Homo sapiens: one gene and its partners. The protein of the gene in region 2 purifies or fractionates together with the protein of the main gene of each other region. This does not show direct contact. Each region holds a gene or a part of one and is shown on either strand. Other genes may lie near its edges.

Evidence for each region.
Region 1: the proteins of ATF6 (region 2) and LACC1 purify together in Homo sapiens (co-immunoprecipitation; one study listed by IntAct). This does not show direct contact.
Region 3: the proteins of ATF6 (region 2) and ZYG11A purify together in Homo sapiens (affinity purification with mass spectrometry; one large-scale study listed by BioGRID and IntAct). This does not show direct contact.
Region 4: the proteins of ATF6 (region 2) and SH3TC1 purify together in Homo sapiens (affinity purification with mass spectrometry; one large-scale study listed by BioGRID and IntAct). This does not show direct contact.
Region 5: the proteins of ATF6 (region 2) and ACAA2 fractionate together in Homo sapiens (co-fractionation; one large-scale study listed by BioGRID). This does not show direct contact.
Region 6: the proteins of ATF6 (region 2) and EPHX2 fractionate together in Homo sapiens (co-fractionation; one large-scale study listed by BioGRID). This does not show direct contact.
Region 7: the proteins of ATF6 (region 2) and EIF2AK3 purify together in Homo sapiens (affinity purification with western blotting, with the first as the bait; one study listed by BioGRID). This does not show direct contact.

Annotation. Positions count from the first base shown.
Region 1 is NC_000013.11:43,889,341-43,893,025, reverse strand, and holds part of LACC1 (purine nucleoside phosphorylase LACC1), read right to left. Parts: intron 2,913-3,685; coding exon 2,753-2,912; 3' UTR 2,752-2,752; exon of another isoform or gene 2,747-2,751; intron 1,578-2,746; coding exon of another isoform or gene 1,424-1,577; 3' UTR 1-1,423. UniProt on the Homo sapiens protein: Purine nucleoside enzyme that catalyzes the phosphorolysis of adenosine, guanosine and inosine nucleosides, yielding D-ribose 1-phosphate and the respective free bases, adenine, guanine and hypoxanthine.
Region 2 is NC_000001.11:161,845,437-161,850,357, reverse strand, and holds part of ATF6 (cyclic AMP-dependent transcription factor ATF-6 alpha), read right to left. Parts: intron 3,910-4,921; coding exon 3,778-3,909; intron 1-3,777.
Region 3 is NC_000001.11:52,863,260-52,866,759, reverse strand, and holds part of ZYG11A (protein zyg-11 homolog A), read right to left. Parts: intron 2,780-3,500; coding exon 2,603-2,779; intron 258-2,602; coding exon 193-257; intron 1-192. UniProt on the Homo sapiens protein: Probably acts as a target recruitment subunit in an E3 ubiquitin ligase complex ZYGA-CUL2-elongin BC.
Region 4 is NC_000004.12:8,219,790-8,224,710, forward strand, and holds part of SH3TC1 (SH3 domain and tetratricopeptide repeat-containing protein 1), read left to right. Parts: intron 1-3,050; coding exon 3,051-3,181; intron 3,182-4,921.
Region 5 is NC_000018.10:49,792,261-49,797,181, forward strand, and holds part of ACAA2 (3-ketoacyl-CoA thiolase, mitochondrial), read right to left. Parts: intron 3,622-4,921; coding exon 3,505-3,621; intron 2,168-3,504; coding exon 2,020-2,167; intron 68-2,019; coding exon 1-67. UniProt on the Homo sapiens protein: In the production of energy from fats, this is one of the enzymes that catalyzes the last step of the mitochondrial beta-oxidation pathway, an aerobic process breaking down fatty acids into acetyl-CoA.
Region 6 is NC_000008.11:27,538,983-27,543,903, forward strand, and holds part of EPHX2 (bifunctional epoxide hydrolase 2), read left to right. Parts: intron 1-1,571; coding exon 1,572-1,674; intron 1,675-2,490; coding exon 2,491-2,560; intron 2,561-4,766; coding exon 4,767-4,847; coding exon of another isoform or gene 4,848-4,921. UniProt on the Homo sapiens protein: Bifunctional enzyme. The C-terminal domain has epoxide hydrolase activity and acts on epoxides (alkene oxides, oxiranes) and arene oxides. Plays a role in xenobiotic metabolism by degrading potentially toxic epoxides.
Region 7 is NC_000002.12:88,556,241-88,558,852, forward strand, and holds the end of EIF2AK3 (eukaryotic translation initiation factor 2-alpha kinase 3 isoform 1 precursor), read right to left. Parts: intron 1,697-2,612; coding exon 1,496-1,696; 3' UTR 501-1,495; downstream 1-500. UniProt on the Homo sapiens protein: Metabolic-stress sensing protein kinase that phosphorylates the alpha subunit of eukaryotic translation initiation factor 2 (EIF2S1/eIF-2-alpha) in response to various stress, such as unfolded protein response (UPR).

The DNA of each region.
Region 1 (3,685 bases), on a different chromosome or scaffold from region 2:
CAAAAAAAGTCCCTTCCTTGAAGATGTAGTCCCCAGCTTTTTCTCTTCTCTAGTAAATGCTGTCAGAAAAGAGTTGACACCTATGCATCTTCTTCCTAATGCACTGAAAGCTGACTCAATGACCACTGCCTATAGAACAGTTTCAATATGTTTAATCCATTGATTTCTTTTAAATTATCACTTTATTTTATCCCTGAAGATTTCTTTTTGAGTACTTTCCACACCTATCCTGGCTTCTTCAAAACAACTACCCTTTTTTTCTTACTTCTGTGACTATAAGGTTGTATTATTGGATCTCCTTTTTTCTCATCCTAATTTCTGCCTAGATGATCAAACCTGCTCCAATAGAATCAGGTATCATCTCTGTATTGTAAGCTTTGAAATATTTGTCTCTGTCTCAGGTTTCCTCCTAATTTCTAGGTCTATATTTCTAATTATTAACCAAAGATTTCTATCTGGATGCCCTTCATTCTATGTAAAGTCAAACTCATTATCCTTCTCTCTTTTTCCAAACCTTCTCCCTCCCTTTGTTGCCAATCTTGGTAAGCAGCCAAGCAGAAATCTTAGAGTCATTAATGACTTTTCCACTCTTCCTCACCTCTTACTTCCATTATCTAGTAACAGGATCTATTGATTCCATCTCTTAAATGTCTCTCTAATCCATCTACTCTCTTCCCTATTTTAATTTCCACTTCCTTCATTGGATCTTCATTATTTCTTTTTGAAATATTTTGATCGCCTCTTATCTAGTCTCTATGCTTTGGTCTCACACAATTTAAATCCATCCTCTTAAATATGATGCCATGGGAAAAAAAAAAAAAACATCCTTACTTTTTTTTTTTTGGCTGCCTACTCATTGCCTGGAAAATAAACTGCAAGCTCTTTGACATTGCATTTGAGACCCTTACTTATCTGTTTCCAACCTGTTTTTCCAGCCCTAACTCATGCCCACACCCTTCTCTCTCTAGAATATGTTATGCACTTTCAGTTTCATGCCCTGGTTCATGGTGTTCCCTCTACCTGTTATGGTTGTTCTTCATTTGTCAAAAACCTCTACATCTTTCGAGCCCATGTGATATGTGATTTTCTCTGTAATATTTTCTCTATCCTGCTTCTGGGTAAAATTAACCTCTATTCCTTATGTTCTCTTCTACTGCTATTAAAATTAAATTTAAGTTGTAGAAGTGTTTATCTCCTTCACTGTATCAGACTCAAAGGAAAAAGTTGTGTTCATTTTGATTCACATATGCTTAACACAATGCCTGACCAATAGAGGGTATCCAATAAATACTGAACTGAACAAATCTATTCCTGATCTGTGTAATAAACAGGGAGAACAAACTTTAAGAATAATTCTCATGCATAAAACATATTAGCTACAACATACTGATTTTTGTCAGTTATTATTACAATTAAATGAAAATCATTTGGCTTTGAATAATAGTAAAAATATACCCAAAAGATGAATTATCCATTGTAATCCATTTGGTTTTAAGTAAATCAAACAGCTAAATTTCTCTCTTGCAGTCAGTTTGGAAGGAGGCAGGAAGCAGTTATACAAAAATCCAGTCAAGTATCTGTAAAATACATAGAAATCAAATATGAGACGCTTACTGGTGTTATTAGAATATCAAGGTAAGAGTCATGAAGTCTATTAAAGTTTTTCTGTAAGTTAAAGAGCTAAAAACATTGTAAAGAGTAAAAAATAATATTAATTCAGCTAGAAGTAACCTTAGGGAAAATTACACATATCTTATAGGGGCAGTGCTAAATCAGTGCCATGAAATATTTTTGTATAATTCCAACAAAACCATCTCTAATAAATACTATTTTAAGAAAATTACACTCAGTCTTGCTGTATGACTTTAGATCATGTGTCAGTGTACTATAGCCTATAGGCCAAATCTGGCCCCTTACCTGTTTATTTTACTGTTTACAGACAGGGTTTATGTTATCCATGCTGTACTCAAACTCCTGGCCTAAAGCAGTCCTCCCACCTCAGCCTCCCGAGGAGCTGGGACTACAGGAGCAGGGCCACTGTGCCTGGCTCCCTCGCCTGATTTTTGTAAACAAAGTTTTATTGGAACACGGACATATTCATTCATCTCTATGTTGTCAGTATCTCTTGTTGCTCTACCTCTACAATGGCGAAGCTGAGTAGCTGAGATATACTGTATGTCCCACAAAGTCTAAACTACTTACTGTCATTTTAAAATAAAAATTTGGGCAACTCCAACTGCAGATAATCATTTGGAAATCTAGTTGAAAATCAAGCTAGTTTCTTTGTGAGAATTTCTTATGATTCTAGAATTCAGAATGTTTATGCAAAGATTTGTTTTCAAAAATAACATGAAAGTTATAAGGATGTGAGGATAGGGAATGTACAGATATCAAGTACATAGTAGAGAGAAAGGAAATACTTACATACCTTTTTAAAGATTAAATTGTTTTATTTTTATACTTTTAACATAAGCCTGCCTAATTATTCTTCATTAACTAGGAAAAGGAGTGGCTGCTCTTCATAATAGAGTGTTATTGGAAATGAACGTTGCTACCACTATTACATCACTAAAAAAGTAGAAACATCATTCTCCCTGTAGGAATAAAGGAGTAAAGTTTAACATAATTAACTTTTTTTTTTTAAATAAGGGGAGGAATAGGCTAAAAGAGGAAGAAAGAGAAAGGGAGGGAGAAGTGGAGAGAGGGATGAAAGAGAGGAAAAACGGAGAGAGGAGAGAAAACCTACTGTACCTCATTCTTTAATTGATATGAAGCCAATCTGTGTACCAAAATTAAGGCCATCTCGGACATGGGAGAAAAACTTGTCAGGATGGCAAGATGTACAGAGGTTGAGATCTTGGTTCTGGTCCTGAATATTCTGTGGAAGAATTCCTCCCTGTTCTAGAAGAATCCTTAGGAAAAATATTTTTCAAAAGAGAGCAAGAGTTTATTTTCCCAATAGCCAAAGCAATATGAAAAAAAGTATGGATGTTGGCATGAAAAAGTTCCAGGAAAGATGTACCTAGAACAATGTATATTGTTATTCACTTACAGAACATGGACTAGTCAGGGAAAAAAATGCTACACTTTATCAGCATTTATCACCTAAGTTCATATATGCACAGTACAACCTTCCATATTGTCTTATAGACATAATCTAGGTACAGAATTTTATAATCAAAATCAAGTGCTTATTTAAGAAGAAATGTCTACAAAAGTTACCAGGATATCAGGCAAAATTCACCTGGCTCAGCCAGAGTATGCTTTTTAGTCATCTGGCCCTTCATCTCCTTTCCTTCTATTAGCCAGATTTTTCTCAGAAAACTTGCTTCTCCATGAACACTTTATGATATGAAATATGACTACAAGTTAGTGATACTTGATTTTAAAAGTCACATTTAAGAATCAATTTCAAACTTTTCCACATCTGTACTAAATGAGGCAGACTCTGGGTAAAGTTTTGGCGACTGGAATAGAAACATGATTTAAAACATACATTAATTTGCCTTTGTAGTAATGACAAATAATTTTCACCAGTTATTAATAACAAAACCTTGTAAATTAAAAGATGCGAAGAACTGTAAAAAACTTAAAAGTAAAAAACCGTGTATTTATATTATCTAATATTTTTTCTAAAAAACATATTCCTCTAGTTAATTAGATAATAAGAATAATTTTAAAATAT
Region 2 (4,921 bases):
TGGGGGAAAGGTGGGCTCAAAGAACTTTAAAAAGACCACTGGCTGAAGAGTTGCAAGCAAGTGGGGAGGTAGAGAGGGAACAGGATGAGGCTGGAAAGGAATCATAATAAGGTCATAATAAAAGACCAGGTCATAATAAGGAATTACTAAATGTAATAAGAAGTCATAAAAGTGTTTCAAATAAAGAAGTGATATATTTCAATTTACATTCATACCTTGCCATGGTACCAAAAATGGACTCAATGGAGGCAAAAGGGGAAGCTGAGACACTGATTAGGAAAGAGCTATGGCAATCCTGGCAAGAACTGATGATGGCATGGACTAGGTTTGTGGCAGCAGAGACGGAGAGGAGTGGACCAATTCAAGACAATTTTGGGGAAGAGTATCAACAACACTTGTTGAAAGACAGGAATCAGGATTTCTGGCTTAAGCAATGGAAAGGAAAAAACACAGTTGTAGAAAATTGGTTGGAAGTAAAACAGGGAGAGGAACTGAGTTCCACAGTGCACATGTTAAGTTTGAAATGTTAAAACAGAGATGTCAAAGAGACTATTGGATATGTGACTCTGGAGACTCAGAAGAGAAGTCTGGACTGAAAACATAAATTTGAGAGTCATCAGGACATATAGATATGAACTGTGCATGAAATTATAGATGAGTCACCTAGGCAGAAAGAAAATAAAAAAAGTTTACAGTTCCAAACCTTGAGAGTTGGGTAAAAAAAGAGCCCACAAAGATTACTGTGAAGCAGCAGCCAATAAAAAAAGGAAACTAAAAAACCATAGTAACACAAAAGGAAAGTCTTTCAAGGAGCAAATGACCCACACAGCCAAATGCTGAGGAAAGGGCAAGTAAGATGGCAGAAAGCACTGGCCCCTTAACAGAAATAACTCTGGCAGAGTGGAAGGCTAACTTCAAGTTAAAAGTTAGAGATAGCTATTTATGCCACACACGAGAGAAAAGAAACAATAGCAGAGGATATATAGAACATTCTTCCCTGCAACTTGCACCAGGAATATTCTCAATGTCCTCTCTTGTGGCTGTAAGGGTTAAGTAGGTTTAAGTTGTTTGGAATAAAACAGACATGTTGGTGCACAGGTAATGAATGCAAACACAAAAGGATCAGCCTAAAATGAAGCATTGAGTGAGAAGGAAAAAAAGTATCTGTCTTGTGTTTGATAAATCTGAATGCCTCTAAGAGGAGGCTGCTTAACACCTCTTCTTATAAATCTATGACATACGCATTATTTTAAAAATCATGCCTGCATACTTAGAAAAATACAAACACTGTAGTCCATGAGAAAAGTCCAAAACTGCTTTTGAAAATATATTTGTGATCTGAACTCTAGTAATGATTTCTGCACATCTGTGCTAACTGGCTTTGTTCTATCAGCCAAAAATATTCTTTGGAAAAAAAAAAAAAAAGTCTGATAGGAGAAATACCAGGACAAGGATTGGGTGGAGTTAAAGGAGAGAGAAAATCAGCCAACATACAATCTGGAGACAATTAGACCAACATTAGCCCAGGAACAGTCAGAGTTCGAGTCTGCTTGCAAACATTTTATGCCAAGAGAAAAAAATTCAACAAATAAATCATTAAAGTAAATAAAGTAAAGGACAGTGCTAGGGAGCTAGAGTTAATGAGAATTCTTGGAGTAAAGATCAGTTCTGGGTGACATCTTATATAGGGTGACCATCCTTTCTCATTTATCCAAGACAGCAGTACTGGTATTCTGATGTAATTATTACTAGCACTACCTTTCCTTCTTAAGAGTGTCCCAGTTTGATAGAACATTATATGGTCATACTATTTATATGCCACACATTTCTATGACTGAAAAAATATAAGCAGTTAATTACTAAATGATAGGCTAATACAATATTATAAACTATGGGATTAGAATCTACTCATTTTTTATTTGAACCATGTCTCATAGCTCTCCTTAGAAAAAGAAACATAAAGTAAGCTGCATTAAAAAAAATGTATAGGTATCACGGCTGAAAATAGATAAAACATCTAAAATTCAGTTCAGAACACAGAACAAAGTAATATTAGGTGCTTTCAAATGTTTCACAAACATTTTTTGGTATCTTTTATTCAGTATTTATACTGATAAAATCAAGAACATCAAATTAATGGACTGACATTTATTTAAATCTCTCAAGTTGCTGAAAAATATTTCAAAGGACTTGCATGGAATCAAGAATCCATAATCTTTCCTGGGTTGTTTTTTGGTTTTTTTTTTTCCCCAAGACCAGTAACCCAGATTATTCACTCAATGGTGACTTTGGAGAAGGGAGGGAAAAAATAGCTTGCATCCCATGTACTACTCTGAAAGCTGATAAATTTCAGCCAGAAAGTCATTCAGACTTTTAGTTTGAACTAGTATGATCAGACTACTATGCTTTCTGGGAGCCACCATGTTATCTTATGCTAATGTGGAAGGCTTCTACTTGCTGCAGTTAGTGCAGAATAAATAATATTCTTGTAAAGCTTACCTGAACTGTAATTTCAAGCATTCAATCCATAACTTGTTCTATTCTTTAGCAAGACGCTATCTCAACTCTCGTAAATCCAAAGGCTATTAGATTTAAATTTAATTTTTGATGGATCTTATGTGGACACTAACAGAATTCAAAATTATAGAACACGTAGGGCAAACCTGCACAAATTACTTATGAAAATTAAATATACTATTAAACTCTACCAATATTCAGGGGCACCGTTAAGAGATCATCAAGGTGAATATTTTAAGAAGTATGATGAATTTTGGCATGTAAAAAAGCAGGAAATGCTATGTTTTCCAACATTATGACATCTATCATTGCTATGTTGCGTTGCAGCTACTGCCATAAAATCCTTTGGGTCCTCCACTGACTTGGCATACTGTACTCCACAAAAATAACAGTTTTTTCAGGAAGGCTAAGTGGAGACAAGCCTGCAGGATTGTGGTGATCATCTTTCAACAGTATGGATGTAACACAGTAAAAATCAGGAAGAAAGATTGCCCTCAACCTACAAATCCTTAAAGAGATAAAAGTAAACAAATCTGTAATAATTTTCAAGCATTATACTGTGCAATAGTTACCATACTGTGACCTCCCTTTGCCTTGTTAGTCAAGGACCTGGCTCCATTTGGCTCTAATACAAATTCTAAATAACACAGGGAAATGTTTATCAAAAAGTATACAACTATAAAAATGTCCACTATACCTTCTTCTAGTTAACATAATATAGAAATTGCATTTTTATACAATTAAAGCCTTTTGCTATTGACAAGCAATATGGAAATTTATCAAGTCATTATTAAATTGCAACAAGGGAGGGATTCAACAAAGATCACAATAAATGAGTATAAATGATTTTACCTAATGACTGCAAATAGGTTCAATCATGTTATTCCACCATATCATATCCATCCACAGGTGAGACAGTAACAAATATTAGATGTATTATATGTATAAACACATGATAGATAAAATAATTATTAAAGACATTATATATAATATGTATATATTTCAATATGTATATTAATGCACACAAACTGAGATTTTAAGATTACATCTCTATAGGAATTTTAAAACTACAAAAGGTTTCAAAGTAAATTTAATTTTACAATATTAAAAGTAAAATGTATTAATGGTTTCAGTAATTTATGTGTTCTACTACTCAAAATATACACGAACAATTTAGATGCAATGTTATACTACAGATAATTCTCTTGTTTCAGCTTCATTAAATCACTTAGGCCAAAAGATAGATGCATGCCATCTTACCTGTAGCTGTTTTTCTGGATAATACCATCTGATGTGTCCTGTGCCTCTTTAGCAGAAAATCCTAGAAGGTGCCTCCTTTGATTTGCAGGGCTCACACTAGGGTTCATTCTCCTGGAATCCTGTTCCAACATGCTGAAAATAAAAAACAGGAAATAATAGCTGAAATAAAAATATGTCACACATATGCCTGCTACATGCAGCTGTGAAACAAACCACAATTCCTTTGCAGATCCATGCACGTAACAAAAATGCTAGGCATAGACGCAAGTACAAATAGGGTACTGAAGGTGTTCAAATCCTTAGCATGGTAACCTGCACATATCAAAAACAATTTTTCTAAGTATAAAAGTACCTTATTTATAAACTGTTTAAACAATAGTAGTGTTCTATATGTTTTAAAAACTTGATAATTACATGTATATATGAAGTAGAAATAAATACGACACACCTAAAAACAAATTTTAAACTCCAATAATAACTGAAATAAGAAGGCCTCCTGGATGGTGCAAACTGGTGTTTTCAATGAGAGAATACTTCAAATGAAGTAGGAATAAAAGTCAAATTCATTGTTAGCCTTTCACAATTCCAGAAGGCAGGCTATCAGATAAAGCTAAGAAAAAAAAATTTTTTAAATACTTCTATTTGTATTTATATGTAAAAACTTCTATTCTTTCTCCCTACCCTCCCTAATATCTTCACTCATCAATGTATATCCTCTTCAGAGGCATAAGCATTTGGAGAAAACAACAAAATATATACATATAAGCAAATACTGCCTACTTAACTTTTTTTTTTTTTTTTTTTTGAGACAGGGTCTCACTCTGTCACCCAGGCTGGAGTGCAGTGGCACAATCACAGCTCACTGAAGCCTTGACCTCCTGGACTCAAGCAATCCTCCCACCTCAGCCCCTCTGAGTAGCTGAGACTATAGGCATGTGCCACCACATCTGGCTAATTTTTATTTTTTTTAATTTTAGTAGAAATGAGGTCTCACTATGTTGCCCAGACTAGTCTCAAACTCCTGAGCTAAAGCTATCCTCCCACCTTGGCCTCCCAAAGTGCTGGGATTACAGATGTAAGCCACTGCGCCCAGCCTTAATTAACACTTTTAACTCATTAATAGTGCTTAGGAACTTGGCTCATC
Region 3 (3,500 bases), about 110 Mb from region 2:
TCTTACCCACTATCCTATACTAGAATCACTTTAGGAGACAACATTTTCTAGTAGGGTACTTCTAATCACTTCTCTGTGGAAGATGCTCAACAGAACCTTCTCTCCAAACACCTTATCCCAGCCTTAATCAGGCCTCTGCATTTAATAACCAAAGGCCAACACCCCAGTCAAATGACCAAGTCTTATACTTGCCTGTCAAATGGAACATCCACAAGAATCCTGGAATTGGTTAAGGAGAGAAGACAATTCTTCTGTAACTTTTAGAGAATAAAGAAAAATAATTTTGAACAAATGTAACATTCCATTCTAAACAAAGATTCCATGTATTTGGAAGTATTACTAGTGAGCTTTTCTTATTGAGAGCTCATTTGTGTACCAGCATTAAATTTTCATTTAATGCTGTAACTGATGACTGCCATGCAGGAATGAAGACTTGAGTAGGATTTTCCAACTTTAAAAATAAGGTAGAAATAAATGAGGAAAACCACCTTCCTAACTGTATTTTTAAAAAATCAACTCCCTTGGCCGGGTGCGGTGGCTCATGCCTGTAATCCCAGCACTTTGGGAGGCAGAGGCAGGCGGATCACGAGGTCAGGAGATCGAGACCAACCTGGCTAGCACAGTGAAACCCCGTCTCTACTAAAAATACAAAAAATTAGCCGGGCGTGGTGGTGGGTGCCTGTAGTCCCAGCTACTCGGGAGGCTGAGGCAGGAGAATGGCATGAACCCGGGAGGCGGAGCTTGCAGTGAGCCAAGATTGTGCCACTGCACTCCAGCCTGGGCGACAGAGCGAGACTCCATCTCAAAAAAAAAAAAAAAAAAAAAACTCCCTTTACAAAGTACACATTTGTATTAGATTTCACAAATTTATACCCCTGTGTAACCACTCCTACAATCAAGATATAATACTTCTATCACCCCCAGAGAGTTCCATTGTCCCCTCTTCAAGTTAGTCTCAACCCTGTAAACCCTATCCTCGGAAAATTACAGTCATTATAGATTAGTTTTTTTAAGGTGTTATGCAAATGGAATCATGTACTTCTGCTCTTTTGAGTTTGGCCTGTTTTGCTCAACATATAACATTTTTGAGTTTCATCTACACTGCAGATATCAGTACTTCATCTCTGTGTGCCAAGTAGTGTTTCCCTAAATAGATTTATTACAATGCTTCTATTCGCCTGTTGTTGGACATTTGGGATGTTTCAAGTTTTTGGCAATAAATAAAGGTACCATGAATATTTGTGTAAATATCTTTATATGGATACATGCTTTCATTTATCTTCAGTAAATACCTAGGAGTGGAATGACTAGGTAGTTTATGAAGTGTATATTTAATTCCTAAAGAAACTACCAAAGTGTTCAAATCTTTTGATCATTTTTATAACTGATTTGTACTGTATTAACAAGTTGAGTTCTTTATATACTCTGAATGAAGTTGATTCTCATATATATATAATGAACATGTTTCCCAGTCTATCATCTACCTTTTCATTTTAAAAATGTGTGTTGTGGGGGAGGGAGCCAGGCATGGTGGCTCCCTCCTGTAATCCCAGCACTTTGGGAGGCCAAGGCAGTGGATCACCTGAGTTCAGGAGTTCGAGACCACCCTGGCCAACATGGTGAAACCACATCTATACTAAAAATACAAAATCAACCAGGCATGGTGGCATGCGCCTGTAATCCCAGCTACTCAGGAGGCTGAGGCAGGAGGCAGAGGTTGCAGTGAGCCAAGATCGTGCTACTGCACTCTAGCCTCGGCAACAGAATGACTCCGTCTCAAAAAAAATAATAAAAATAAAAATGAGTGTAGGCCAGGCGCGGGGGCTCACGTCTGTAATCCCAGAATTTTGGGACACCAAGGTGGGCAGATCATGAGGTCAGGAGATCGAGACCATCCTGGCTAACACGGTGAAACCCATCTCTACTAAAAATACAAAAAAAAAAAAAATTAGCCAGGCATGGTGGCGAGCGCCTGTAGTCTAAGATACTCGGGAGGCTGAGGTAGGAGAATGGCACGAACCCAGGAGGCGGAGGTTGCGGTGAGCCGAGATCATACCACTGCACTCCACCCTGGGCAACAAGAAGGAAAATCTCTCAAAAAAAAGAAAATTTTAGCCTCACTGCTTATCTATATTTCCTATTTTTTCTATAACAAACACACTCTTTTATCTATTCTCTTTCTCTAATAGGATGAAAAACCAGAACTAAATAATATCTATTTTTCACATATTTATCCTAAAGTTAGAAAACACAAATTGTCTGCCGTATGCCATGGCTCATGAGGCCAGGAGTTCGAGACCAGCCTGACCAACATGGTGAAACCCCGTCTCTACTAAAAATACAAAAATTAGCTGGGCGTCGTGGTGCACGCCTGTAATCCCAGCTACTCAGGAGGCTGAAGCAGGAGAATTGCTTGAACCCGGGAGGCAGAGGTTACAGTGAGCTGAGATCGTGCCACCGCACTCCAGCCTGGGCGACAGAGAGAGACTCTGTCTTTAAAAAAACAAAAACAAATTGTGCCACGGCACTCTGGCCTGGGCAACAGAGCTGAGACTATTAACAACAACAAAAAAAGCACAAACAAATATTCAATTGAAATTACCTGCTGGTAATGGGGGAAATTTTTCAGAGCCTTGAAAAGTAGACAGGTGACCTCTGACAACAGGCGAACAGGCATCCCCTTGGCCAGGCCCTGGCGTGTTAGGTTGAGAGCGCAAGCACTGGCTGTGAACTGCACTCGCAAATCCAATGGGTGATTCCTCATTCCTATAGCCACAAGCTGAAGATGAACTTGTTTTTAGTGCATATGATGCCAGTAACATTCTCTATGCTGTCTTGTGCATGTTTTGATTGGCACAAATCTTCGTTTATTGGGACAGGAACAGATTTTCCCTATCCTAAGCATTTATTCTTTAGAACATCAAAGTATTACAGCAAAGCCTTCTAATCCAAATGGAGTCACTAACTATCTGTGTGACTTTGGCCAAGTCACTTCCTTTCTCTAGACCTCTATTTCTTTATCTGTGAAATTAACTTCAGAATCATTTATTGAGCCTCACTCCATACAAGCTACTGTGACAGGTACTGCAGGGGACACAAACATGAGTGAGAGCTACTCGTTAGCATAAAGCCTTGTGACAGTAATAACACTGTGAGAAATGCCAAAAAATAAAATTGAAGAAAAGCACCATAAAAGACGCATCAATGAAGTGACATCTGAGGTAGTTATGGAAAGAGTGGCCATTTCTGGGAGAGAATCAGAAGAACTCATTGAGAGAGCACATTTAGGCAGAGTCTCAGGATTTACACAGGAGGAGATAAATGTAGGGGCAGAATGGACAGGGTATTCCTAGGGGAAAGAAAGTGATAAAGAAAAACAGAAAGTGGAAAAAAAGGATGGGATAAATCCACCAACAGAGGAGAAGAATTTGAAAAATGGTAAAACAAAACATTAGGTAACTTGAAGCTACACTGTGGAAGACCTAGAACACAAATGTAAA
Region 4 (4,921 bases), on a different chromosome or scaffold from region 2:
GCTACCGTGATAAGGCACTGCACGCCGGGGGCTTAAAGCAACAGAAATGTGCTTGTTCAGAGTTGTGGAGGCCAAAAGTCTAAAACCAAGGCCAGAAGGGCCACATTTTCTCTGGAGACTCTAGGGGAGGGTCCTTCTTGCCTCTTCCAGCTCCTGGTGGCCGTGGGCGTTCCTTGACCTGTGGCCACATCACTGCACTCTGCCGCCGTCTCCACGTGGCTGTCTTCCTCTGTGTGTCTTCCGTATTCTCTTCTTAAAAGGGTGCCCATCTCCTAGCACCCATCCAACTCCAATCTGACCTCATCTTAGCTGAACTAATTACATCTGCAAAGATCCTTTCTCCAAGAAAGCTTACCTTCTGAGGTTCCGGGAGACATGAATTGAGGGACACGATTTAATCCAGTACACACGTCGCTCTCCTCCGTTAAGCCCCAGGAAGCTTCTGGGCCCGACCTTGCAGGCCCCCATGGGCTGCACAGAGTACCTTGTGCCTTCCAAAACTGCTCTGGGTGACACGTGTGTCCTTCTGCCTGGGATGCCCCCTCTCCCTGAACCCCGTGTTCTCCTGGGGCCTTCCATCAGCCCCCGTGGCTCCTCTGGGGGGGGCACTCTTCTGGCCATACGCCTCTTCCTATGTGATTTACACGCCACCCATGACCTGCCTGCTCCCAGCCAGGGAACTCCAAGAGAAGAATTCCCTGGTCACTTCTGTGTTCTCACTGCCCAGTGCGAGCAGCAGCAGGGGGTCTTTGGAGAGGAGTCAGCTGTGCCCATCCTTTGATGGAATTCTGTTTCCCTGGCCTTGTCCTTGTTAAGACCTCAGTCAAGGAGCCCAGAGAATGTGGGTGCATGGAGAGGCCACCTTCTGGGTCATGTGATCCTGGTCCTGGCCCCACCAATGAGATGCTTGTCTTCAGTGGTCCTGTTCAATGTTTAGGGCTGCGACAGACCAACACCTCTCAGACCAGGTCTCAGAGGCCGTTTGTCACCATGCCTCATCAAGCCGTTCACTTGTTCCCCTCATGGAAAGGGTCCGTCTGCTCTGGTACCTCTGGCACCTGTGCATCAGAAGCAGCTGGAAGCTGGCCAGGCCATGCACTGATGGCAGGAGCTAGACCAGCAGTTCCCAAAGCATGTTCTCACACACTGCTCCATCATAGACTTCATCATGCCCTAAGGAGTGGGGAAAAGCTTTGTCCACATCCCTTGTGGGTGATCCCAGGGATTCCCAGCACAAACAAGGCATCTTTTTCCTGTTGAAATGCCTTTTCCACACTTACTTAACCTCCAGAATCCTCCACAACCCTGTTTGCTTTTGGCTGAGCTGGTGTTCCATGGGACACTCTTTGGGGATCCTTGGTCTAGCTGATCCCTACCATCTCCAAGGGAGACCACAAATTCTCAACAGGTCACTGGGGGCCGTGTGAAGTCAACATGTACTGAACTTACAAGGGGTCAGAGAAGAGCCAGGGAATGAGCTAGTTTGTTCCCTTCCTTTAACCCAGAAGGATGACGGGGCTGGGTGCCATTAGTCCTGTTCACAGCTGGAGAAATTCTGACTTCTCTCATTCACTCAACAAATGTTTGCTGAATATCTTTCCTATTCCAGACCCGGGGTTTTCATCTTTTATTTAGTGAACAACCTGGTAGCTCTTCTTTTTTTTTTTCTTTAACTTTATTTTTGACACAATTTCAGACTTAGAAGAAAGTTGCAAAAAGAGTATAACATTCCCACACGCCCTCACCCAGATTGCACAAATGTTAACATGTTATGACATTTGCTTTATTGCTTTCTCTCTTTCACTTCTATTTTTTTCTAAACACTTTGAGAGTAAGTTGCAAACATGATGTTCCTTTACCCCTAAATAATGCAGTATGTGGTTCCTAAAACCAGGACATCTGCTTACATAACTACAGTACAACTGTCGAAATCAGGAAATGAACGCAGATACAATGCCATTATCTACAGATCTTACTCAGATTTTGCCAGGAGCCACAATGATGGCCTTTGTAGACAATGACAATTTCAGACCACGTGTTCTATTCAGACGTCATGTCTTGCCTCCTTAATGTGAAACAGCTTTTCAGTCTTTTTCTGATGTTTTTAAAGAATACAGGCCTGTTATTTTGTAGAATGTGCTGTAAGCTACTCTAAGTTTTTTTAAAATCTGAATAAGATGCATTTCAAAGCTTCATATTATACTGGTAATTTAGTCCTATAAGCAAAAATTGCCTCCTTTCTCCTCCCCTCTCTCCCTCTCTCTCTGTTTCTTCCTGTAGTTCTTCTCCCTGACTTTATGAGAGTGCCCTGAGTGTATGTTGGGCACTCTGGGGAGCACTGAGGTTGTACAGAATCAGTGGGAGTTTACAATGTGGAGAGATTGGATTGGTTCTGTCTGCAGCTGTCACAGGGGACTTCATAAGGGAGGGGACATTTGGAATGGGGCTTTGAAGGCTGCCTAGGAGCTCACTGTCCTAGGACACCATTACTTGTTTGCATCTGTTTCAGCCTTTCCTGCTTCTGGGTATCTGCCCCTGGCCAGACAAGGCACCCCTTGAGGTCAGGATCTGGTTTTTTTTTTTTTTTTTTTTTTTTTTTTTTCAGACAAAGTCTTGCTCTGTCACCCAGGCTGGAGTGCAGTGGTGTGAACTCGGCTCACTGCAACCTCTTCCTCCTCTGTTCAAGTGATTCTCCTGCCTCAGCCTCCCGAACAGCTGGAATTACAGGCTCATGCCACCACGCCTGGCTAATTTTTGTATTTTTGTAGAGATGGGGGTTTCACCATGTTGGCCAGGCTGGTCTTGAACCCTTGACCTCAAGTGATCCGCCCACCTCAGCCTCCCAAAGTGCTGAGATTACAGGTGTGAGCCACCATGCCTGGACTTTTTGTTGTTGTTGTTGTTGTTTTTAAATCTCTGTCTCTACCCCTGGGCAGAGAGTAGTGCTCCGAGACTATCTGTCTGTCAAATCAAGGAATGGAAATGTGCTTAGTGTGAAATGCTGACTTTGCAAATATGTTGTTTTGAATAAAGCACTTTATTTTTTCCAGGTTGGAAAGTGCGATTTTTCTCAATGAGGAAGAAAAGTCATTCTTCAGCGAGGGCTGCTTTTCTGAGGAGGATGCCAGGCAGTTGCTGAGGCGGATGTCGGGCACCGATGTCTGCAGCGTGTACAGCCTGGGTGCGTGTGGGCGATGCCTGTGGTGGGGCCACTGCCCTCCCCTTTCCCTTCTGCAGCCCCTGCTGCCCTCGTCCATCCACAGATAGTGCCAGCCCCTGGATGCTGAAAGGTGAACAGACAGAGGCTGCCGCTGCCTCCAGGGCACATAGGGGCTGCAGACAAGCCAGACAGGAGAGAGGATGGGTGAGGAGCTGAGGGCGTGGGAATGTGGCCCCTGAGACTCCTGTGGGCACCAGGGAAGCCCTTCCTGCCCTGACCCCAGGCACCTGCCTGAGACGCTGGGCGAGGGAGAGGGTATGGGTCTGGTTCTAATTTGCCAGCCCTGAGGGCTCCTGTTTGGGGCCCAGCCCTCTGCCCACTGCACTTTGCCTGGGTGAGAGTGACTTTTCTCCTTGTCACAAGAGAAAGAACCCAGACTGTGGTGTGGCCTGGTCACCTGGCTGCCAGGGAGTGTCATGGTGGGACCCCAGGGCTGCCGTCTCCTAAGGACAGAGATAGTCCCTCTGACCTCAGTGCCCCTCTGTGTGCAAAAGCTTTCTCTGGGGGCTGCAGTGCAACGCATAGATGAAGTTGGCATGTCATCCACAACATAAAGAAACATGGCAGAGGCCGTGCTATCTGCTGGGTGTAGATAAACACAAATGTGTGGCTACACACCCACTTTTTTTTTTTTTTTTTTTGAGACAGAGTCCTGTGCTGTTGCCCAGGCTGGAGTGCAGTGGCATGATCTCGGCTCACTGCAACCTCTGCCTCCCGGGTTCAAGCGATTCTCGTGTCTCAGCCTCCCAAGTAGCTGGAACTACAGGCACGCGCCACCACACCCTGGATTAGTTTTGCATTTTTTTATACAGACAGAGTTTCGCCATGTTGGCCAGGCTGTTCTCGAACTCCTGAGCTCAGGTGATCCGCCAGCCTCAGCCTCCCAAAGTGCTGGGATTACAGCTGTGAGCCACTGTGCCCAGCATCTACACACCTACTTGTATACCTATGTGCACATGTACAAACACAGACATAAACACACAAATACGCATGTAAATACACACTGTGTGCATGCACACATGCACTCACAAGTATACACACACACACACCCACCCATGCAGACATGTGTGCACATGTGCCTGCAGAGGTGTATACACACATACACACATGTGCATGCACCTTCCTCACAAGGTGTACACGCACACGTACATACATATCCATGCACCCCCTCACACACATATGCACACACATATATAAACAGATACATTTCCACACACACTTTTTTCCTGCTTGCTCGATGACATGCATTACAAGACCTTTTCTCCCACCAGTATTAGAGTTAACATTTGTAGATCCCACAAATCAACTTCCCTTCCTGAATGGACAAACTTAGACTTGACCTCAGCATATCAAGGCTCAGACCCCCTGGATGGTATCTCCTGTCCTTTTTAGGAAGCAGGTTTGGGACCCTCCACACCGTGGGGTGTTGTGGGCAGGGGCATTGCAGGGTGCAGGTGTCATAAGTGGGGGTGTTGCAGGATGCAGGTGTTGTGAGATGGAGGCATTGCAGGGTGCTCCCCAGAACTGCACACCTGTTATCGCAGTTCACAGCGCTTGACGCTGTCCACATCTCCACATCTTTTTACAGCTATTTCTCACTTGACCTCCACGGAAACCCAGTAAGCAGTTAGTGTCAGCCACTTTACGGGGGTGAAACTGAGACCCGGTAGCTGCCTGCCCTGGGATGAAGAGGGTGGGGGT
Region 5 (4,921 bases), on a different chromosome or scaffold from region 2:
TGTTTTCCTTTCTTTGTCTTCACTTCAATTGGTGCCATTTCATCATTAAAGTAGCCAGCATCATTAGCTGAAAAATAGTAGAGAGACTATCATAAGAATAAAAGAGAGAAACATGAAAATAAATCAAACATATTATTCAATTTAATTTCTGATCTACCTTTTCCTCACAGTCTACTTTAATATTGAGTCTTTATTAATTTTTGAGATGGAGTCTCACATTGTCGCCTGGGCTGGAGTGCAACGGCACAGTCTCGGCTCACTGCAACCTCTGCCTCCCGGGTTCAAGTGATTCTCCTGCCTCAGCCTCCCCAGTAGCTGGGATTATAGGTGCCCACCACCATGCCCGGCTAATTTTTTTTATATTTTTAGTAGAGATGGGGTTTCTCCATGTTGGCCATGCTAGCCTCGAACTCACCACCTCGTGATCCACCCTCCTTGACCTCCCAAAGTGCTGGGATTACAGATATGAGCCACCACGCTCAGCCTGAGTCTTTACTATTTACTTACACAACTTACCTTCCGTATTGGAGGATTTACGATACCATCATGTGTTTATGTAGTTGCATTTTGCATCTTTTAAAAATTATAGAGTCTTTACTATTTACTTACACAACTTACCTTCCGTATTGGAGGATTTACGATACTGTCATGTGTTTATGTAGATGCATTTTGCATCTTTTAAAAATTATATTTTTAAAAATTATATTTTTTTAACCACAATTTTTTTTCACCAGGTACTGCTAAGACTGTTAGCAGCATCTGTCTGTTTGCTATAGATGTAATGGCAATAAATGGACTTAATACCCCTTTTAAACTTCTTTTGGTGAGATAAGCAATTAAAAAGTTACCAAGTTGTCTATGCCACAAAGTAATCTAACTGAAACTTAATAGTGATAGGCAACCTGAAGAAATTATGGGAGCAATCACTAATACAATTATAAGTAAAACATCTTACCTACTTTGACCTCCACTGACTAGAATGTACTGTAGTAATCTATAGCTTTGGAAATAGGGTCAGGAATAATACTAACCTTAATTTTCATATCACTTTACAATTGGCAAAATACTTTCCTTATATGCCCTTATTTGGTTTTAAAACAACCTTATTAGATAAATAGGGAAGGCAAATATTGTTATCTCTATCTTACAGAGGTTCAGTGAATAAATGATATGACTGAGCTTGATAACTTGTGCGTGGTAGAAGTAGAAACAGAACTGATAACTCTTGACTTCTAGACCAATCCTCTTCCACTATGAACATATAAGTAAAAAAACACACGAGTTAGATGGCATCAGCTCTATTCCACTTATCCTTCTGAAATGCTAAGATGGACTTTATCCTCATTACTTCAAGCATTTAATATTCCTAAATAAGAGTTTCCACTTGCTTTAACAGTTTAATTTTTTAAATATCACATTTCTTCAACTTGCTGCACTGCTAAAAGAACTGCTGTCACATTTGCCTGTTTTGGACCGGCTCTATAGCAACCTGCTGTGCTACACCAGGGCACTCTAACTAGAGTCTCGGACTAGTTCTAAGTCTCTGAGTTAGGTACAATGATTCTTAATTAGGAGTGGCAGAAGGAAAGCATAAAAGACCCAGTGGGTCTTTTCCAAATACATTACCCCTTCTTATGATTATGATATGGCTTGTGGGAGAGGACATCCTCTATATTCCAGTTGCCACAGTGAGCTATCACCTCTGACAGAACGTATCGTATTCCTCATCATGTTCTACTGACAACAGGACCAGTTCAGCACAAAACTCAAGGGTCCATCTAGGGTCAAGTAGCAATACCACTTTTTAAGTAGTACTAACTTTTTCAAAAGAGAAATTCCTAGTTAATTTTGCAATAATTAATAAAATATCTGATCATCTAAAGACAAAGGAATAATGAAAAGATGTAATAATTCTTAAAGGTATGATTTGTAAATATTATATAACCATAATAGAAATGATGAAAATATTTCCTATAGATATTTATTCTATAGATACTGATACTTTCCAGTTTCACTCACCAGCTTTCCATCTCTGCTGTGACTGCAGGGCATATTTGTCACATTCTTCTCTGCTTATTTTGTGTTTTACAGCAAGATTCTCTGCAGTCATTGCCATGGGGAGCTGGACATGCTGATCTGTTAATGATACCCATAAAGAATCTTCCAGCTATTAAAAGACATTAATAAAGTGACTTGTTAAGGCATTTCCTTTTAAAAGTAATATGTTATAATTTCTTTAAATAATCAACACTTCCAATAAACAAAAGTAAAATTAAGACTTTCTGATAACCACTATTCATATTCAGTTATGGGATATTTTTTAAAAACATGCAATGTTTTTGAAAACATTCAATGTCACAAAATAAAATGCACACATTCTCTGTCCCTCTCTAAATGTGGGGGTCTAAGAACAGCTAACAGGACTAGACGTGCATGGTGAGATCACAGAAGTTACCCTACGATCAAAAATTAAATCCTCAAGGTCATATTTTGTAGAAAACCTGACAATGAGTCTTCATGCAATGTTTTCTTATAGCCATCTTTGTAAACCAGCCCTGAGCTCTGTAATAAACAGTATTATCTGTTTTTCTTTTTCATCCTGCGCCTCAGTGACAGGAATAGCTGGTTCTATCGGTTACTATGAGGCTGAAAAGATCTTGGGACAGGTTCCCAGAGTTACAGAAAGGTTGTTAATTATTATTCAAGTAGTTAGTCTCTGGTAAGTGTGCCCCACTTTGCTGCCTCATCAACATTTAACTCACTGACCTGTCTTCATAAAAGATATCTCAAATGTGTTTGGTGGCTAAAATCCGCATAGATTCTCTTAAGTCCCATTCCTTTCAACTTCCAAAAAGGCCAGGTGAGAAACTGGGTGAACAGTGTGAGTCAAACATTACTATAGAAAATGCTAAAAAATATAAAATGTCAGTAGCCCTTTCACATGGGAATGAGAAGAAAACATCATTCTTTATCAGTACTGTACCATCATTCTCAAGTTGTAGCTCTCAAAGATAAAAGAATCAGTTTTTGTTTGATTTGGGACAATATAATCTGTATTCAAAGATGTTTTCTGTGATGATGAAGAAATCTATTCTGAGACTGTCCCAGAAATAAAACTTCTATAAGTCACGTTAAAGATTTAATTACTCAGATTACTAATTGTTTAGTAGTGAGATTAATTCACTCTTTTGTCTATCTTTTTAATCCACTTCTTCCCTTCCTCCATCTCTCCCATGCCTATGGCCACTTACACAGGATAATTATACTACTAGAGGTCTGCTGAGATAGATAGAATCTAATTTCATATGGGTTAAAATGTCAAAACTAACCACCAAAATAGAGTTTTGAAATAGTTTACAAACTTCTAATCATTCATATCTTGCCAATCCTCATCAACGAAATTGGCTTCAAAATTAGTTTTCTCTCCCATAAAAAGGTATGTTATTAAAAGTACTTATATAATGCTAATAAGAACTAATTCTTTTAAATTTTTATGGTTCCAACCTTGATATCTGATCCAAGCTTGGTTCCAAAACGCACATTTCTGACACAGTAGGGAGCTTGGCTCATGCTTTCGGTTCCTCCACATAAAACAACTTCAGCTTCTTTAACACAAATTTCCTATTTAAAAACAAACAGTAATAAAAACTCCTTTTACCGTACCCAAACAATGTATTAAGAAACACACTGATTTTACAAATTAATGGTAAATCAAACAAATATTGTACTGTAGCTTACAGTGTCTCAAAAGGAAATGCTTTTAAAGTAACTGTAAAGCAAATGCTAAAGTATCCATTACCAAGATGTAGGAGGAGAAAACTAAAAGGTTTCAATCATGTTTGCCTGAGTAACAGGCCCTACCTACATGTGGCTAAGAATAGTAATTCTTAACACAATATAAATCTTGAAAATCAACAGATATTAATACCTGGCATAAATGTACAGCAGATAATAAAGGACATACCCTTTAAAAAGGCAAAAGAAAAATTTATCCCATTAATGGATGTATCTGAACAAGAACAGAGATTTACAAGAACTAGTTCAATCTAGGTGACTCATAAAAAGGAAACCACTTCATTCTTCCAACACTTTCCACTGTTTGCCTTTCTCAGAAAAGGAGCAAATAATGAGCCTCTATGAACCTGATGGTTCTTAAAATTATTACTAGGAAAACCGAGGTCACTATTTAAGATATATCGTTATAGAAACAAATTAATGTGAAAATTGTTTTATTAAAATACGCCTCTGGCTCTTATTTTGTTTGTAATAAAATGAAGACTTTTACAAATGAAATTGGATTTCACTTTCTTCTCTGTGCTCAAAGAAACAAATGTATTTAACCAACTGTCCTTTAAAAAGGTCAAACTAGTTTGTACTTCTACTAACAGCATCATTCACTTCCTTTGAAATAAAATACATTTCCTTATCCTCTCCTAAATTCTTGAGATTTCCTGCTTGCCTCACGGTCTTTATTCAGTGCCTCACAGGTAACACTCACAGACCTGGGTTCAAATTCTATGACTGAGTAACCTTAATGGCTTTAATCAGTTTCCTTGCCTGTAAAATGGGAATAATAATAATAGTTCTTGCTTCATAGGATGGTTGTAAGATTAAATGAGATATTGAATGTAAATCTAGCAGGGTGCCTAGCATGTAGGAAGCACTCGAAAGAATGATGAACATACTAGCTTTTAAAAATATTGAAGTATATATATATATATAATACTTACCATTTTAACCATTTTTAAGTATACAGCTCAGTAGTTTAAGTGTATTCATAGTGTGATGCAACCATTACCATCACCCATCTCCAGAACGCTTTTCATCTTGCAAAACTGAAACTCCATATCCATTAAACACTAACTTTCCCTCACCAGTCCCTGGGAACACCATTCTACTTTCTGTCTCTATGAATTTGACT
Region 6 (4,921 bases), on a different chromosome or scaffold from region 2:
CCAGGATTGAGAGCTTACCTCTATGGGGGTCACCTCGTGTATGCAGGTGGAGTGGAGTGGGGCCCCTGCCCAGGTCTCCTCCATTGCAGTCCACTGGCCCCTCTCCATCCAGGCGCCATGTTTCCAATTCCCCCACCTGGAGCTCATCCTTGTCTCCCTCCTGGGTTGGGTATGAGTGAAGGGTCAGAGTTGAGATTTGATTTGAGCTCATCCCCATGGCCCCTAGATCCAGCACTCTTCCCACAAGACCTTATTTTTGCTGCAGCACTGTGGCCTTGACAGCATTCACTTGTATTTTTATGAATAATGATGACCACTGTCACTTGTTTGGGCACGTGCTGACCATCTGTATAAAACTCTGGACTAACCCCCTTTAGATAAAATATTTGTGATCCTCGAAGCATTCTGAAAAATGCTACTATTTTTAATTTCCAAAGAGGAAAACAGGTCTCAGAGGGTTAAGTAACTTGTCCGAAGTGGCTGAGCTGGGGTTAAACTCCTCTGACCCTGCAGGCCATGCTCTTGTCACTGCTCAAAGAACATCTTCCTTCCCTCCCCCACACCCACATTCCCTTATTCCTTCACACCGTCTGTCACTCATTCATTCACCCATTCATTCATTCCTCAAATGCTGTGAGCACAGGCTGGGTATGAAGCTGGGGCTGCATGCTCAGCTACCCAGACACACGAAGCAGGGTGGCCACCCTCAGTGAGCCCACAGTCTCACGGGAGGCAGAGCAGCTGGGATGCTCGCAGAGGGGCCCTGAGGTACAGTGAGTCTGGAGCACCCGCCTGGTGGGGAGGCTCAGGGTGGCTTCATCACAGGGTGACATCCTCATCACATACCCCTTTGATGTGTCTCACAAAAGCCTGGAATGACCAGTTCCTGTGCCTCCGGGTCTTCGTGAATCTGAAAATGCCGACGGGCCCTGTTCAGGCACCAGCATTGAGGCTGTGCCCTGTGAAATTGCAGTGGTCCCTGGGCTGCCAGGGGTCATCACAGGCCATCCTCTGGAGGGACTGTGCAGCACCCTGAAGACAAGAGAGGGGTCCACAGTGGGATACCACAGAGGGTCTGTGCGGCACGTGGGAGGTGACAGGATGCAGCCACCTGGCCTGGGTTCTCTTCCTGCCTTAGAGGAAAAACGGAGCAAATCCTTATGAAAATTCCAAGAATCTCTGGCGATATCTCCAAAGGGCCACAGTTAAGCTGGCTGGGAAAGGTTTAGACGAGGGGAGAGCAGGAGCTGGGGGCTGGCAGGGTCTGGGATATAGCTGCTGTGTGCCTGAAAAAGCCGGCAACTGTGGTTGGTCCAGGAGCTGTGATAATAGCCCGTGAAGTCGTGGCTAGGTGGGAGGGAACATCAGGCTCCAGTGTGACCGTGAGATCACAGCTTTGAGCTTTCGAGGAGATGGGATCACTCTGGCAAAGGATAAGGGAACAAAAGATGGAGGCACTCATAAGGCCTTGCGCAAGTTCAGATGGTCTGCGAGAGGCAATGAGGTCCCCACCTTAAAATGCAGACACCTGGCCCGGGGATGGGAAAGTCAACAAGTGGCTTTTTTTGCAGGAGGACTTTTTGTAAATAGCCCAGAAGAGCCCAGCCTCAGCAGGATGGTCACTGAGGAGGAAATCCAGTTCTATGTGCAGCAGTTCAAGAAGTCTGGTTTCAGGTAAAGAGAGCACAGGGCCCAGACACAGATGAGAGATGATCGACAGATAGGGATCTTCAGCCCTCAGGGTGGAGGGTGAGGCCCAGTTCTCCTCCACCACAGCCCTCGTTAGTGCCAGGCCAGCCTCTGCTTCAATGCCTCCAGTGTCGGGAGGCTCACTACTTTATGGTGCTCAGCCTGCTCTAGTTTGGGATAGCTCAGCTTGTTCTTCCTTATGCTTATGGGGCCCCCATAGGGCAGAGGGTTTTCACTACTTTTTAGTCATGGCTCCTCAGAGAATCAGATGGCAACTCTGGGCTCTTTCTTCAGAAAAACATAAAAATCCACATAAACTCAAAAAGTGCATACATTTTGGTGCATTTGCCCTACTTCCTGATGTCATATTAGGAGGGGGCATCTTTGCTCCACCTCCCAATGTCCCTCTCAAGTGGGCTCCCTGGGGCAGGCGAGTGGCCTCTGGATGGTGAGGCTGCTAAACCAAGTTCCCCACCATCAGCAACCTCCCCAGCCTCCAAGGTGACACGATGACATTCCCTGGAGGGTCCTGTAGGGCCGGCTTCTTTGTGTCCCAAAAGCCAACCTAGAGGCTGCCAGTTCACTCAGTGGAGTCCTGTGTCCTTGCACAAGGCCTTGCTGCTAGAGCTTGGCAACTGCGCCCGACAGCAAGGCGTGGGTCCTGGGCTCTATTCTCTTGCCCCTGCAGGAGGCTTTGCTCTTCCCAGGACGACTGGCTGTGCAGAGCAGGTTTCTGCTGGTGTCTGTAGCAGAGCCGTCTACTTACTGCCTCCCTCTTTTTACTTTCTGATCTCTCCCCAGAGGTCCTCTAAACTGGTACCGAAACATGGAAAGGAACTGGAAGTGGGCTTGCAAAAGCTTGGGACGGAAGGTGAGTGCCAGGTTCAGTGTAGTCTCATCCACACCCCAGGACCCGCCCGCGGGGCTTCCCATTGGCCTGAGCTGATATGACCTGGGCCAGAGCTGGTTGTGGACAGATCTGCTGGCCACCTCCTTTCCCTTTGGGGTTTGGGAAGTGACTCCCTTCAGGGGTTTCCCTAGGATCTTTCTTGCTGGTGCTTCTCTTGGGATGGTAGAGGGTGACCTTGGGGATGGAGCTGGGGTGTGTCCAGGGAACTGCAGCATCCATCCGGAATCCCCAGGTCCCCTGGTGGTACCCCAAGGCAGGGCTGCAGATGGCCTGGGGCACCTCCCAGAAGTGACATGGATACTGGAGCCCCCAGCCCAGAGGAGCGTTAGGTGCTCTCAGAGATGTGACTTTAGCCTTCGGTTGTGTCACCTTGCACAAGTCAATCTCTGAGTCTCAGTTTCCTCATTTGTCAAGCAGAAGATGAGTTTCCAATCTCTGGGTCTGCAGAAGGAGTAATGGAGGTTCCCAGTTTACATTCAAAATGTTTAAAAATCTAAGGGAAATCTGTTCCCCAGTGTGACTGCACAGGTAGCTAGGCCTTCATCAGCTCACTCAGTAGCCATGGTTACCTTGTTGGTTCACTCTGTAAGTGAACACACTGCTACATGCCAGACTTCCTGCCAGACCCTGGGATACCATGGTGTGTAAACAGACCAGGTCTTGACCTCCCAAAATTAAGTCTTGAGGCACTAGAGTATATAACATCGTGGTTAAGAGCAGGCTAGGAAGCACATGGGCTGAGTCTAATCCCTGTGTGACCCTGGGAAAGGTACTTAACCCCTCTGATCCACTGTGGCTTCTTCTGCAATATGCAAGTGGCAAGAACAGTGCCTCCCTCACAGAGCTGTGTAAGGATGAAATGGTTGAAGGCATGTGACCTGTTACAAGCAGTACTGGGAACCTATTAGCTCCATTAGTGTTCCTTGTCATTATCATCATATGACCGATGAAAATGACCAAACTGCAGTTGGACAGACAAAATCTCTCAAAGCGTGGAGGAAAATATTGACAAAGGCGCTGGGAAGGTGAATCCCAATGGTGCTAAGGTCAGAAACCCTCCTCTTCTGCAGTTTATTTTTTGAGACAGTCTTGCTCAGTTGCCCAGGCTAGAATGCAATGGCACGATCTCGGTTCACTGCAACCTCTGCCCCCTGGGTTCAAGCAATTCTCCTGCCTCAGCCTCCCAAGCAGCTGGAATTACAGGAGTGCGCCACCACACCCAGCGAATTTTTTGTGTTTTAGTAGAGATGGGGCTTCACCATGTTGCGCAGGGTGGTCTCAAACTCCTGAGCTCAGGCGATCCACCCACCTCGGCCTCCCAAAGTGCTGGGATGACAGGCGTGAGCCACTGCACCCAGCCTCTCTTCTGCAGTTTCCAGCTGGATCTTCCTCTCTCCTCCCCCACCTCCTCCCATCCCATCCTCTCCCCCCCCCGCCCCCCGCCCAGTTCACATTTTAGCTTGGAACTTTCTAGAGTTTACAAACCTCATAGAAGCCTCAGGATTCGTTTTAGCCACAAAATCATTTTTGACCTTCTCCTGGCTCCTGGTTGTGGGAGGAGGGAGGGGTGTGGAGAGATGCCCATCACTCTGGGTGTAAATGAAAATAGTGCACGTTCCTCAACCAGGGATGGGTCAAAGCTGCTTGGAAATTAGGGTAATGGTGGAGCGAGAACAAAGGAAAAAACACAGAGGCTTTCCTGGCCTTCCTGTGCATGCCTCCCTGTGTTCAACTCATTTGCCAGCAATTGGAAGTTACTTTGCTGCCATTCATGTCACATTGATTACTACTGTGGCTGCCCCCATTTTCTCTGGAACCTTGGTCGCCCCTTTTAAGCATCTATTTAATTCAGGGAAGAGGAATCTTGATCTTCATTCAAGGGTGTCTTCTGCCTTCTTGGTGCCATCAATTCGGTTCTCCCAGTTACATGCAGCTCAGCACACGTTCTCACTCACACACATCTGCACACATAAGACCCATATTGGCCTCTGCACTGCTGAAGCTGTTATTTTAAAGATCTCCAGTAATAACCACGAGTCTGTTGTGCAAAGTTCGGCAGATACAACGTCAGGACCACAGCAGGGTGGCGAGCAGGGGTCTTTCAGAGGAGGAGGGAGGGCTTCCTTTGTGGAGTGCTGGCCACTTCTGTTTCCTGTTCTCCCCCCAGATCCTGATTCCGGCCCTGATGGTCACGGCGGAGAAGGACTTCGTGCTCGTTCCTCAGATGTCCCAGCACATGGAGGACTGGGTGAGGGAATGGCCCTGTACAAGGGTCATCAGTGCACCCCGGGAGAGGGCACGGGTGCTCAGAGGGAAGACGGC
Region 7 (2,612 bases), on a different chromosome or scaffold from region 2:
CAGCCACAAAGATCTGGGAAGTGTTTTTCCAGCGTACAAGTTGCTCATAACCTTGCGTGGCAGACATTATTTGTTTGTAATATGGAGATGCTATGCATTTTGACCTTTCTAGATTGTGTCTAGCTGGTTCATGCCCCATCAGCCCAGCCTGCCACATGCCTCGATGTGGCACATGTCAGATACACCTCGGTATCAATACAACTAGCATCACCACAGCCCTTTTCTCTGAGAGCTCTCCCTTTAGGGGAAAGTCCTCTATATTCTCAGTCCTTGGCACAGGGTAGGTACTGGGCAAATGTCTGTCAATTATGGATCTTGTGAATTTTGAAAGGGCCTGCCAAGTCTTTGGGAAATGATGAAAAAGATACCTGTCTGAAATGGGTTAGGAAGAAGTTTTTTTGAGGATAGGTTTATGACTCTTCCTAGATCTATGATCCCATTTTATAAATTAGAAAATCTACCATTTTGGGACTAACTCCTCAAAATAAGAGTCAACATACTTAATTTAAAAAAAGTTTTATTAAATCATTTAGACTTGAAAGAAGTCACAAGTTAACACACTTAAGTGTGTTCTGTACACCACCAACCCAAATGGATTGATTTCAGAATTTTTATAAATAAAACATAAACATATTTACAGTGAAAAATAAAAACATGTTAGCAAGTGAGATGATTAAACTGTTACCTATAATCAGTTTGGGGGAAGTACCAACCTACAGGATTACATATAAGACACTTAAGATTTCATTAGGCTTAAAAAGTCCATAGTTGAAGAAGTTAGTTGTAATATATATGATCCATTTCTTACTACGGCTTTTTTCCTCCCAAAACTAGACCTTTCAACCAATTTACATAAAAAGCTTCATTTTCCCTTTATTGGAGGTAAAAGTACAAAAAGCTGTAAACCCACCCTAGAACCATCTAAGGAATAAAGCTATTGAATGCTACAAATAGGACTATAAAACTACGGACATAAACCGTTATACAGTTTGTGCTACTTGTCCTCCAAAATAGTGCAGATTCCTAATTTACCCGCCAGGGACAAAAATGGAGTCAGCTTTTTCTAGAAATCAGTTTCAAAATCATCATATCTCTAGAAAGCATATTTCTAGAACAATACAGTTACCACACAGGGGGACTTTCCTTCTTCTGCATTATAAAAATATATCCATTTTAGTTCTCACTATATATATATATTAGGGATTGCTGCTACCTCCTTAGGCAAATGGTGAGGGCTATAAAGCTTGGCCAGCAGCCAGTTTCAAGAGACTAACAAAGAACAAAGATAGCCCTTTCCTTAAGTATAGCAAAACTCAGGAGTTGGCTCAAATTAGGTTATGCCCCCAAATCCAGCTTAAATTTGATATAAAAAAAGTAGTCCACAAAAAAATTGAGCGAAGAACAAACTTTTCAAGTCTGCAATTTTGGACAGGCATATTCTAAGAAGTAGGCTATTATCTGCATCACCTATTAGGGTTGCTAGCACAACTTAAGGCTAATTGCTTGGCAAAGGGCTATGGGAGTTGTTGGACTGTCTTGAATGTTTTGTTCCCGATGAACTCAAGGAGCGAGACCTCTGTCTGAGCACTGTTTTTCCTGGAAAGTCCAAGTCCTCAAATACAGCATTTTCAATGATGTTTATAGCTTCAGGTCGTTCCATGGGGGATGGAGAGAGCATGTCTTGAACCATCACGTACTGAAAATATAAAAATTGTTTTGTGATAAAACGGCCAGGTTTGATCACTGTACAGTTTTTAAAATCAGTGCTGGCAAAATATTTCTGTACATATTTTAAGCTTTTGAGCCATATTCGAGTTTTCAAGTCTCTGATACAACTACTCAGCTCTGCCGTCAATGCACAAAAGCATCCAGAGACAATTTGTAAATTAATGGGCATGGCTGTGTTCCAATAGAACTTTATTATAAAAATAGGTGGCAGGCTGGATTTGACCTGTGGGCACTAGTTTGCCAACCCTCATTCCAAAAAAACATGGACAATTTTTGGGTAATTTGATTTTCTAACACATTATAAAGGATTATTTAATCACATCCCTGAAACATAAATATGATTTTTAAAAATCATCTTATAATTGCATGTAAATCTACAATTATCTCAATAGAAATTTTAATTAGAAAAAATTATGGCAGAGATCAGCAACCAACACCTTTTCTTGGTTTTTAAAAATCTCTTTGAACGTAACATGTACTCTTATGAGCCACCCTGGGAATAGATTCATCAAGTTTGCAAAATACATGATGACAATTTTTAGTAAAACAGACTTAAGTATATGTAGGTATTAATATATTGTTATAAAGTCCATTTTTTAATGCAACCCTTCATTATAATACTGAAAGATAAATTTTGACTTTTTCCAATTTGAAAATGAACACATACTAACTCACTTCAACTTAATTACTTAAGGAAATTCAAGATTTATCAATATATAAATTTCACAGGTGCTACAGTGTGGAACACTGGACATTAGGCTGAAGGAGCCAGGCCCCAGCTCCAGTGTTTGGTTTTAACAAATTCTGGGCTCTTGGGAGCAGGTCTCTTTCCTCTCTAGACCTTTGGCTTCCTCATCTGTAAAATAGGGGAAACTGAGTCGACT